Homo sapiens: one gene and its partners. The protein of the gene in region 2 interacts with the protein of the main gene of each other region in a biochemical or structural test. Each region holds a gene or a part of one and is shown on either strand. Other genes may lie near its edges.

Region 1 (3,657 bases), on a different chromosome or scaffold from region 2:
AAATCAGCATGATTAGTTTCCTCACTTCAGGTCTGCAGTCAGCTCAGCATCCCTTTCCTTGGTCACCCTGTCTGCCACATCTTACATCCCCTTCTCTTGCTTTACGATTTTTTCTCTCAGCATTTACATATTTTACTTATTTATCTTGTCTGTGGTATGCCTCTCCCATTGGAACATAAACTCCATGAGGGCAGGAATTTTTAGCTGTTTTATTCATTGCTATAGCCTCTGCCTCCACATCAGCGCTTGGCACAGGGTAGAAATGCAATAAATACATGTTGGATGAATGCATGAAAAAGGCAATACAACTGCAAACAAACCTCCAAACCAGTTTTATTTAAAACTATCAATATAGTATAAAAGTAGCTTTAATTACATAGAATATAGAAACACAACTGCAAAATTAAATTATTTCATACAGTTTTGGTGCATAAAGTTTCAATAACATTTAACAATTTAAAAATATCCAAAGTATAAATTCTTGTTCTGAAAACTGTTTATTGATAAATGATTTTTCTCAGCTTTTCCCCTACATTTTGTACAGTAGCAGGTATGATTTAGCTGACTACTTGGTTTTTCAACCAATGGATATTTAATAATGATAATAATAAATGGTAGCAGTAGTAGCTAACACTTTTATAGCATGTAATATGTGCCAGGCACTGTTTAGAGAGAATTAACACATACAATTATGTCCAAAGCAGAAAAACCTAGTAAATTGGTTTCACAGCTTTGCCCATTTGTATTAGAAATATAAAAAAGCAGGTATTACAAAATGCTATCTTGCCATTATACAGCATCATCAATAGTCCCTTGGCACAAATAAGAAACATTCCCTTACTAGGTACACTTCTTTGGCAAGACACAAACAAGAGCTAAAGAAAGGGGAGAGGGAGAGAAAGTAAGAGTCTAAAATGTAATTTTGGGGGGGCTAAACATATGATAATGAGACAGTATTTGATATTTTAAAAAATGCTAGCTATATATAGTTTTTCACATTAATAGTTGTTGGTGGAAGGGAACATTTGCATACTAATAAAATCCAATTTAACAACGTTTCTATGTCTTCTAAAGCATATTTCTAGGATATCTGCACTGTCATCCTGTCCCCCTTTATTTAATAAAGTAACAGGCACTTTATTGTCTGATAATCAGTTTGATGTTTCAGATGTGATTCTGAACATATTTGGAAAAATAGGCAGCTAAGTTTGCCTTCAGAGCTTAGTTCAATATCCATTTAGAAATGAAAAAATAAGATGTGTGATTTTATTTCTTAAAAATGCAGTGCCTCTTTAACATGGAAATTACAGTGCACATCTACGATACAGCAAATAATTTTCCTTTTATTAAGATCAGTAGTCTGCTCTGCCTTTTTATTTCCATTATTGAGCGATGGTCTCATGTTTCTCTGACACCAGGAAAGCAGTTCAACACATCAAAATTTCATTAAATGAAACAAAAAGTCCCCTATGATAAAACCCTACCTTAGTTCAGTTTGTATGAAAACCTGAGGTGATCAACAGCTACGTTTATTCATAATTATCAGTATTAGAAGTAGTTCATGGTATTTTCAGGGACATATCCAGAAATTTAAGACATTTAATAAATTGTTTTAACCAAAGTGTCTTAATACATATATATGTAAATAAGCAGTCCTAAGACAGCAGTTGTGAGTCAAATGGTAGCATATGACAATATTGTGATCTTAAGGGGAAGGTATTTCAAGCTTTTTTGTTTTTTAAACAGAGCCTCGTTCTGTTGCCCAGGCTGGAGTGGCAGTGGCACGAGCTAGGCTCACTGCAGCCTCTGCTTCCTGGGTTCAAGTGATTCTCCTGCCTCAGCCTCCCAAGTAGCTGGGACTTCAGGCACCTGCCACCATGCCCGGCTAATTTTTTTTTTTTTTTTTTTTTTTTTAGTATTTTTAGTAGAGACAGGGTTTCACCATGTTGACCAGCCTGGTCTCAAACGCCTGACCTCAAGTGATCTGCCTGCCTCAGCCTTCCAAAGTGCTGGAGTTACAGGTGTGAGCAACTGTGCCTGGCCTCAAGCTATTTTCTGTAGCATTTCAAGAACCAAGGTTTTTTACCCTAATTTGAATGCCAAAATTAAGGCCCACTAGTCACTAATGGGACAAATATGTAGTGGTTTGCAACTTAAATGCTTAAGTGAAAATCTCTCAAACTGTGACACAGTGATAATAGTGTTTCTTTTAAGACCAAATGACTCAAATGGTACACCCAGTGTTTTGCAGTTAGTTTTGACTAAGCTGGACAGCTCATATTTAAGATGGAAAAATGTAGAGACCGATTTTAGATGTGCTGGTATAGCTTGTATTCAAAGCTTAAGACCTGGAGAAGAAACAGCTCAGTGTTGGAATGTCTTGGGGGCATCGAACCTCTAGGAGGATCTACAGGGTAAATGTCAAGTAAAAATGCAGTATTGATGTTCTTCCTTTCTCTCAATCTACCAAATTCTCCCAGCCAAAGAAAATTCTCCACCATTAGTTTTCTTTTCCAACTAAAGGTCAAGTAAACTATTGTTCACTAAAGTGTTCCCCCTTTGAAAAAACCCAATGCATAATGATCTATATTTCTAAGATAAAAGTTAGTATTTTTTTTTTTTTTTTTGAGACGGAGTCTCATTCTGTTCCACAGGCAGAAGTGCGGTGGTGTGATCTTGGCTCACTGCAACCTCTGCTTCCTGGGTTCAAGCGATTCTCCTGCCTCAGCCTCCTAGGTAGCTAGGATTACAGGTGCACACCACCACGCCCAGCTAATTTTTGTATTTTTAGTAGAGATGGGGTTTCACCATGTTGGTCAGGCTGGTCTCGAATTCCTGACCTCATGATCCACCTGCCTCGGCCTCCCAAAGTGCTGGGATTACAGGCGTGAGCCACCACCGTGCCCGGCCAAAAATTAGTATTTTATAAAAGAAGTCACCATAGAATTTTAGTTAACTTTTTCAGTGTCTTTAACATGATTTAGCTTTAAAAAAAGATTTACATGCAGCTTTCCTGAAATTCATGAATTATATAAAATGCATGTGAAATATACTTGAATGTGATTTTTTTTTTTGAGACAGGGTCTCACTGTGTTGCCCAGGCTAGAGTGCAGTGGCATGATCATAGCTCACTGCAGCCTCAACCGACTGAGCTCAGGTGATCTTCCCACCTCAGCCTCCCAGGTATCTGGGACTGTTAAAAGAGAGTGCTACCACACCCGGCTAATTTTGGTGTTTTTGTAGAGATGGAGTTTTTGCTATGTTGCTCAGGCTGGTCTTGAACTCCTGGACTCAAGTGATCCACCTGCCTCAGCCTCCCAAAGTGTTGAGATTACAGGCGTGAGCCACTAAGCCCAGCCGCTGAATGTATTTTAACAAAAACAAACAAAAAAAAATAAAGTTGACAAATAGTTTAAAAAATACATATATATACACACACACACATATATATATCCTAGTCAAAATTGAGCTTACCTGAAACTTAAAGAGAATCAAATAAATAAAAAGTAAGTTTAATTTTCATCTTTCCCCCTTTCCCCACAGTGAGGTATGTACTAGGATAGTTAAATTAACGAAAAGTATCTGATAAGGAATAAGTACTTGGACATTACTAATTTAGGAGGTGACCAACATGCAAGAGGCAAAAAAAAAAAAAAA
Region 2 (3,657 bases):
TTTCAAATTTCAAGGGTTGAAAGTTTAGCTCTTGAAAGTTTAGAATTTAGTAAACAAGTCAATCTTCACCTTTTCCATAACATATTCTAATCTATCGAATAAGAATAGATTTATGAAATCTGAATACTCAACCATGCAAAAAGCTGGTTCATTAAAAAGACTAATAGAAAAAAGGCAAATTTCTGATGAGATTACACAAGAAAAAATAAAGACAATATCACAAATAAAAATGGAAACAAAACTACAGATACAAGAGAAAAAATATGTAAGTAAATAAAATCTTTATGCAATCATTTAAGACAAAATGGTCAAAGACTTAGAAAAATCTAAGAAAACTGATGAATGAAGAAATTTAATCACCAGTTTAAAATGTTCCTACTAGAAATACAAAGTGCAGATGATTTTACAGGTGAGTTTACTAAGCTTTCAAAGAATTTACCATTCAATCTTATACAAACTGTTTCCCCAGGGAACAGAAAAGGTACTATGAGTCTCATATAACTTTAATTTTAAAAAATCAAAAGGGACAGTAGAAAAAGGAAAACCACAAGCCAACTTCACTTATATCAGATGCAAAAATTGAAATAAACTTTAATATTAGCAAACTGAATCCATCAGTTTATTTAAAAATACTACATCAAAACTATGTTGGATTTAACCAAGAAATGCAAACTTGATTTAACAAAAAAAATATAGACTTCTGGGTTAAAATTGTAGCTTAAACATACACATTGTTTTTATCCTTTCCAAGCCCACTAACATAATAGCAAATGGATATTTTTTAGACATACAAGCCAGCAAGAATGGAAATAACAGCAGAAGAGACAACAGCAACAAAATTTCAGAAGCTGGAAAGCAGAAGAAAGTAACTGACTTAGCCCCAATGAACTGCTTGCAAGTTATTTAAAAAGCACGTAGGCCTGGAAGGGTTAGCACACAACTATAATCACAACACTTTGGGAGGCCAAGTCAGGAGGATGACTTGAGACCAGGAGTTTGAGACCAGCCTGGGCAATATAGTGAGACCCCTTCTCTACAAAAAACTTTTAAAAGTCACATGTGGTGGCCCACGCCTGTAGTCCCAGCTACTTGGGAGGCTGAGGCAGGAGGATTGCTCAAACCAAGGAGTTTGAGGCTGCAGTGAGTTATGATGGCACCATTGCACTCCAGCCTGGGCAACAAAATGAGACCCTGTCTCTAAATAATAATGGTAAAAAACAGGTGGACTCGTAGATACCCTCCTTAATTCTGTACCAACTGGCAGCTGCCCACCCCCCTTCCCCAGCTTCTAAAGATGGTAGACTAGCTTTGGAAGGTATAAAACAAGTCTTTAGCCTGAGGTTTACTGTCAGTTGAGAACCTGTAATACAGAAGCAGGTTAATAATTAATCACCATATGCATACTAAATGCTCAATGAGTTTTTACATGTGCATATACCTGTGTTATCAACACCTAGATACCGAACATTTCTAGCACTCCAAGAGACTAAAGATGCTATTTTTAAAAAGATAATTAATTAAAAACAAGATAAAAACTCAATAGAATTGTTGAAAGATAAAGCTGGGGAAATCTCAGAAAAAAGATAGCGAATAAGAAAACCAAGCAAAAAAGAGGTAGATGAGAAATCAGTAAGTTCAACATTCAAATAATTGGATTCCAGATGGAGAACAGAGAAAAAGAGGTGAAAATCATCAACAAAGTAATTTTTAAAATAATGTCTCAGAAATTTAAGAACAGGAACTATTCAGATTCCAAGATCCCCACATCCACTCATGTCATTGTGAAATTTCAGAATGCTACCGACATACAGAAGATCATACCAGGATCCAGGACAGTGGGGGGGACAGATAACATAAAACGGATTACATATGAAGAATTAGCAGTCAAAAAGGCTTCATAATTCTCAACAGCAACAGTGTAAGCTAGAAAAAAAACAATGTCAGTGACTGATATTCTCAAAATTCTGGAGGGAAATTGTTTCCAAATGAGAATTGTAACCCAGAAAACCAAAAAGGGCCATTCAAGTATGAGTAAAATGAAAACATTTTTGGAAATGCAAATTCTCAAAAAAATATATCTTCTGTGCACCGATTCATGGGGAGCTACCAGATGTCCTAAATGAAAACGGGATGTAAATCAAGAAATAATAAGACACAAGATACCTAAAAACACAGGATATAATTCAGCAGAGAAGCATAGGAAATTTGCAGGTTATGGATAAAAGAAATCCCAGGTTGACAGGGCTGAATCAGGAGGAGTGTAGGGTCAGGCAGGCACTGCTGTTCTTCAAGATCAGCTATTTGCCCAGCACTTTGGGAGGCCGAGGCGGGCGGATCACGAGGTCAGGAGATCGAGACCATCCTGGCTAACACGGTGAAACCCCGTCTCTACTAAAAATACAAAAAATTAGCCGGGCGTGGTGGCGGGCGCCTGTAGTCCCAGCTACTCGGGAGGCTGAGGCAGGAGAATGGCGTGAACCAGGGAGGCGGAGCTTGCAGTGAGCCGAGATCGCGCCACTGCACTCCAGCCTGGGCGACAGAGCGAGACTCCGTCTCAAAAAAAAAAAAAAAAAAAAAGATCAGCTATTTGAAGCTTTTTGACTAAACCACATACAGTGTAACTTTGTTAAAAACACTTTACATTTAAAAACTTTTTTTAAAAAGGGGGAAAAAAATGAAACTAGCCATAAACCTGTGAGAATTTTTTTCTTTCAAAATAGGAGTTAACACTAAAAAACAAATTAGAAAACAATACCATACAAACATACAAAAAAAATGTTTAAACTGCAAAAATGCTTCAGGAATACCCATTGTATATAATTACTAAATTATTCTTAATTAGCCTCTTATTAAAGAAAGCATTTCTATCTGGAAACAATGTAAACCTAGATGAAGCTAAGATACGGAGGGTTGGACTAGTTAGACTGATTCCAAGAATGCATTAAGGAATATATATTGATGTAGTTGTTTGCCACTTAATAAACATGAAACTAGGTACAGAGTAATGATTAAAAGAAGTAATTTTGGGCTGGGCATGGTGGCTTACACCTGTAATCCCAGCATTTTGGGAGGCGAAGGCGGGCAGATCGCTTGAGGCCAGAGTTCGAGACCAGCCTGGCCAACATGGCAAAACCCTGTCTCTACTAAAAATACAAAAATTAGCTGGGTGTGATGGTACACGCCTGTAATCCCAGCTATTCAGGAGGCTGAGGCAGGAGAAGCGCTTGAACCTGGGAGGTCGTGCCACTGCACTCCAGCCTGGTCAACAGAGTGAGACTCTGTTTCAAAAAAATATATGAATAATAAAAAAGTAATTTAAAAAAACACTTTGTTGACAGCTATATTGGCACCATACTTGTTCGATTATTTCATTTTTCTTAACACAATATTCCTACTTTAAAATCATGTATTTACCCTTCTTAATAACAATGCCATAAGAAATGAAAATCTTTTACTTCTTTTAGAAGAGCATATCTTAGGAGGGCAACGCTGCAGAAAAGACAGCAGTCACTGACATCACCCAATACTGGCTTCCTCTTTGAGGTTTTCTCATGAAGAATCTGGTTTAATTACCACAAAGGAACCCTTTCCCCTGCCACTTCCCCTTCTTATGGAAGCCAAGGAAAAATTAAAAAGTAAATGACTTCCCCTTTAATA
Region 3 (3,657 bases), on a different chromosome or scaffold from region 2:
TTTTGCACTGCTACCTAATTAAACATGGCTTTTGAGCTTTCTAGATACTTCTACTGTCAGACTGCTATTATTCCCTTTACATTCCAGAACTTTACATGTTCCTCTTTCAATGATAACCCTTCAAGTGACAAAACATGCTAACTGTTGCTTCCGAGGATATCAAAGGACAGCATATATGGCCATAGCAAAGGTTCAAGAAGTGATTCTCATAAAATGGAAGGAAAATTGAACAACTGAACCAAAATGCAAACACCTGTTCAACATCTCCCCAAAAGCTGATTATTTCAATGAATACTCTACATAGCATAAATAATACTTCTAAAGTAGATTTTATAAAAATTAGATGCTTTCAACATTTCTCACAACCTCACAGAAATCCAAATAAATCATCTTTCATTCCCCAAACATTCATTCTCTAAAAGGACAACACACCAATCCCACCATGATAAAAACTCTTGCCACATTTCATGTGCCTTAGAAAATACTTTACTGCACAGCTGTCTTTCCCAGGATATGTGAAGTTATTTCCATTAGAGGAGGAAACTAAAAGCTGGCAGTAAAATACAAGAAATAAAACTGACTTGGAAATGCTCAGTCTCCACCATCAGTATTTCTCTTCCAAACCATCTCATATACTTCCAATATTTTTAATGAGTTTATAAAATCTTATTTTTAAATATAAAAATTTCTTACCAATTCAAAAGAAATTTCAAGACTCCCATTACATTATATAACAACGACTCAATGTTTTCTTTTCATTTCAAAATATAAATAAGCACATGGGAGAGAGAGAAGCCACGTTTTAATGGCTTGTAAAAACTGATGAGGTTCGAGATGGGCAATTATGTTAAATAACAGATTTTTTTTCAGTCATAAGGACCTTCCTTTTCTATGTTTTTTTTTTCTCCCTCTCATTTTCCATCTCCCTCCCTCCCTCCCTCCCTTTTCTCATTCTTATTTATAGCATCAAACCCCTTTGGGGTACAATATAAACTTTGGGCACTGACTAGCATATATGGAAATATACATGCTTTGCACTTATTAAACTACCAGTCAAAAATAATGCTGTCCATCGATGTGTATCATATGATGACAGATCAATAATACCTTCACATCTATTCCTTAGGGTTGACTGAAACAGCAAACCTATGTTGACAATGATCAGCAACTCTCTTAAATATCAGCAAACCTGCCTAAGTACCAATATGGTAAAAAGCAATAGAATTAAACAGAAGAGCAATACGAATTCACAGCATGTCACCTCCATCTGTTGAAAGAGCAGGCTATATAAAAATTTTCCTTATTACATGTTTAATTTTACAGCTCTAGATACTATCTAAGTCTATGGTAGATCCAGGTAGCTAGAATACTAATTCCATCTAGAGGGCCCACAGTTTAGTTCAATGAGTTCAATTCAACTAGTTGAAAGTCTTTTCATCACTCAAGATCTCTCACAACCTAACCCACCATTCTTCCAGAAGAAATGCTTCCTCCTCTCATCCAAATCACCCCCTGTGTTTCTGTAGTGTCTTCAGAGCATGGACCATACATCCACCAGTCCCTCCTTCAAGGAAAGCTCCAGGTGTAGCAGGGAGACACAGACAAGTAAGAAGATGACGGGGGATGCATGGGTCATGCCTCCTTCCTATACACTTTCCATTTTGATTGTAAGCTCTTTAATAACAGAGCTTACAATCTCCTGCTGGGACTAATTGTACCACAGTAGGTCAGCCATTTAGAATATCAAGTCCCTGAGAATGCTGAAAGCAGAACCTCTTATGGGATCTCTTGATTGCCAAAAATCCCTTGTCATTCTGGCTCTGTGAAGCATCTGTACTCCTGAACCCATCCTCCATCCTGAACCTCTCTTTTCTGGACCTCTGTGATAACCATGTGCTTCTTCATTTTCTCTTGCCTCTTTTTGCCCACTACTCAGTCTTTAGTTGGGGTCCATTGAAAAGGTGGTGTCTATGGTTTATCTCTCTTGACATTTTTCATATTTCTGGAAAGGGGTATAAAAGGTATTTCTATCAGGATGCATGTGAGCACTGAGTGTATTAGGATGAGACAGAAGCATGGGTCCACTGGAGTAATAATATCACTGTGGAAAGCAGAGTGTTGATTGGGCTGGCTCACATTTGTCTGTGCAGCTGAACAAAGGCAGAATAATTAAGTTACTGGCTGGAAATCTGCATGGCAACCAGTACTCTGTCTGTTGATACTGTAGGTGCCTGCAGCTTTAAATATCATCTCTATGCTGTTACCTCCAAATCTCTGGTCATGATCTTCTCCACTAAACTTCAGATAAAATAGAGGTAGGTGCTCATTTGACATCTTCTTTATTTACCTATTTTACAATGAAATAACCAACAAGCAGAATAATGAAAAAAATTTTTTTTCAAGAAATGATTAAGTGGTAAGGAAGGGAGCACATTCTATTCCTAATTCAAGGAATAGAATGAAAGAAACAACATCGTGCCAAGGGCATAAAGAGCAGTTTAAAGGTTACAAGAAGAAGATGTGGGAAGGGGGTGGGGTTGGGGGAACACTACAGTTCCTGTTGTGAAAGAATTACAGTGCAATATGGTAGGGTCACCAGAAAGATGTAGCGTTCCTCATAAAATACTTCCACATTCCAAAATGAGATCTTCTCAGATTCTTTAACTGGTACAGCCTAAAATACAACGCCAGCTCTCAATGTTTCAGGGCAGTAGAAGGAACTGTGCTGATGAATAACTATTCAAATGCCCCAATAATTCAGAGATATACACTTCAGAAGTATTTATGAAAATTTCCAGGCCCAGCACAGTGCCTTGTGCCTGTAATCCCAGCACTTTAGAAGGCCAAGGCAGGCAGATGGCTTGAGCCCAAGAATTTGAGACCAGCCTAGGTAACATGGTAATACCCAGGCTCTTAAACAAACAACAAAAAAATAGAAATAGTTTTTGAACTTGTAAACACAGACTTAGAATGCCTGTAAATATTCTTACTTCAGAATGTAATAAAACACTATTTAAAAACAGAAATATAACTTCACAGTACTTGAATATTAGATGAGCTAAGATAATCAAATAAGGCAAACTATTTTCTTTACATCCCTTCTTGGCTTTCCTGAATTCCACTCACATTACATAAAAGTTGCATCTCAGACAGAAGGGATGGCTCACTCTTTCAAGTTAGCCTGAAACACATCTTAGTGCAATGTCATGGATAATTTAAGATTTATGAATCAGCGTAAAACTTTTTAGAATGGAATTTCTACCTCCTTTCATTTCTGTATTCTCCCTTCAACAAAAAGCAGGAAGAGTTGAGAAAAACAGTTGATAAATCTAGTTCCTGCTCTCCTAATGTTCACTCTCTGAAAGAGACAACACTGATGGAAACAAAGTCGAGTCAAAAAAACTTTTGGTAAAATTAACAAAGTGAATAGAAAAGTTATAGATACAAAACATGTAACATGATAAAGCTGTATTTGAATTTAGAGATAAGAAAGCAACTTAAAATGTGCCTGTTTGGACACAGGAAGGATCAAAAAGGAAAATCACATTTCCCTCCCACTCACCCTCGTAGCTAAAAAAGTTCAGTGAAGAAAGTTACGCTTCTAAGGTTTTGTTAAGCTTGAATATAGTTTGTATAGCTGAAGGTGAAGGAAAGAAC

Evidence for each region.
Region 1: the proteins of PBK (region 2) and INTU interact in a test that uses a peptide from one of them, tested with the Homo sapiens proteins (one large-scale study listed by IntAct).
Region 3: the proteins of PBK (region 2) and SIPA1L1 interact in a test that uses a peptide from one of them, tested with the Homo sapiens proteins (one large-scale study listed by IntAct).

The regions. Positions count from the first base shown.
Region 1 is NC_000004.12:127,723,390-127,727,046, reverse strand, and holds the end of INTU (protein inturned), read right to left. Parts: 3' UTR 310-3,657; downstream 1-309. UniProt on the Homo sapiens protein: Plays a key role in ciliogenesis and embryonic development.
Region 2 is NC_000008.11:27,824,240-27,827,896, forward strand, and holds part of PBK (lymphokine-activated killer T-cell-originated protein kinase), read right to left. Parts: intron 1-3,657. UniProt on the Homo sapiens protein: Phosphorylates MAP kinase p38. Seems to be active only in mitosis. May also play a role in the activation of lymphoid cells.
Region 3 is NC_000014.9:71,582,431-71,586,087, reverse strand, and holds part of SIPA1L1 (signal-induced proliferation-associated 1-like protein 1), read right to left. Parts: intron 1-3,657.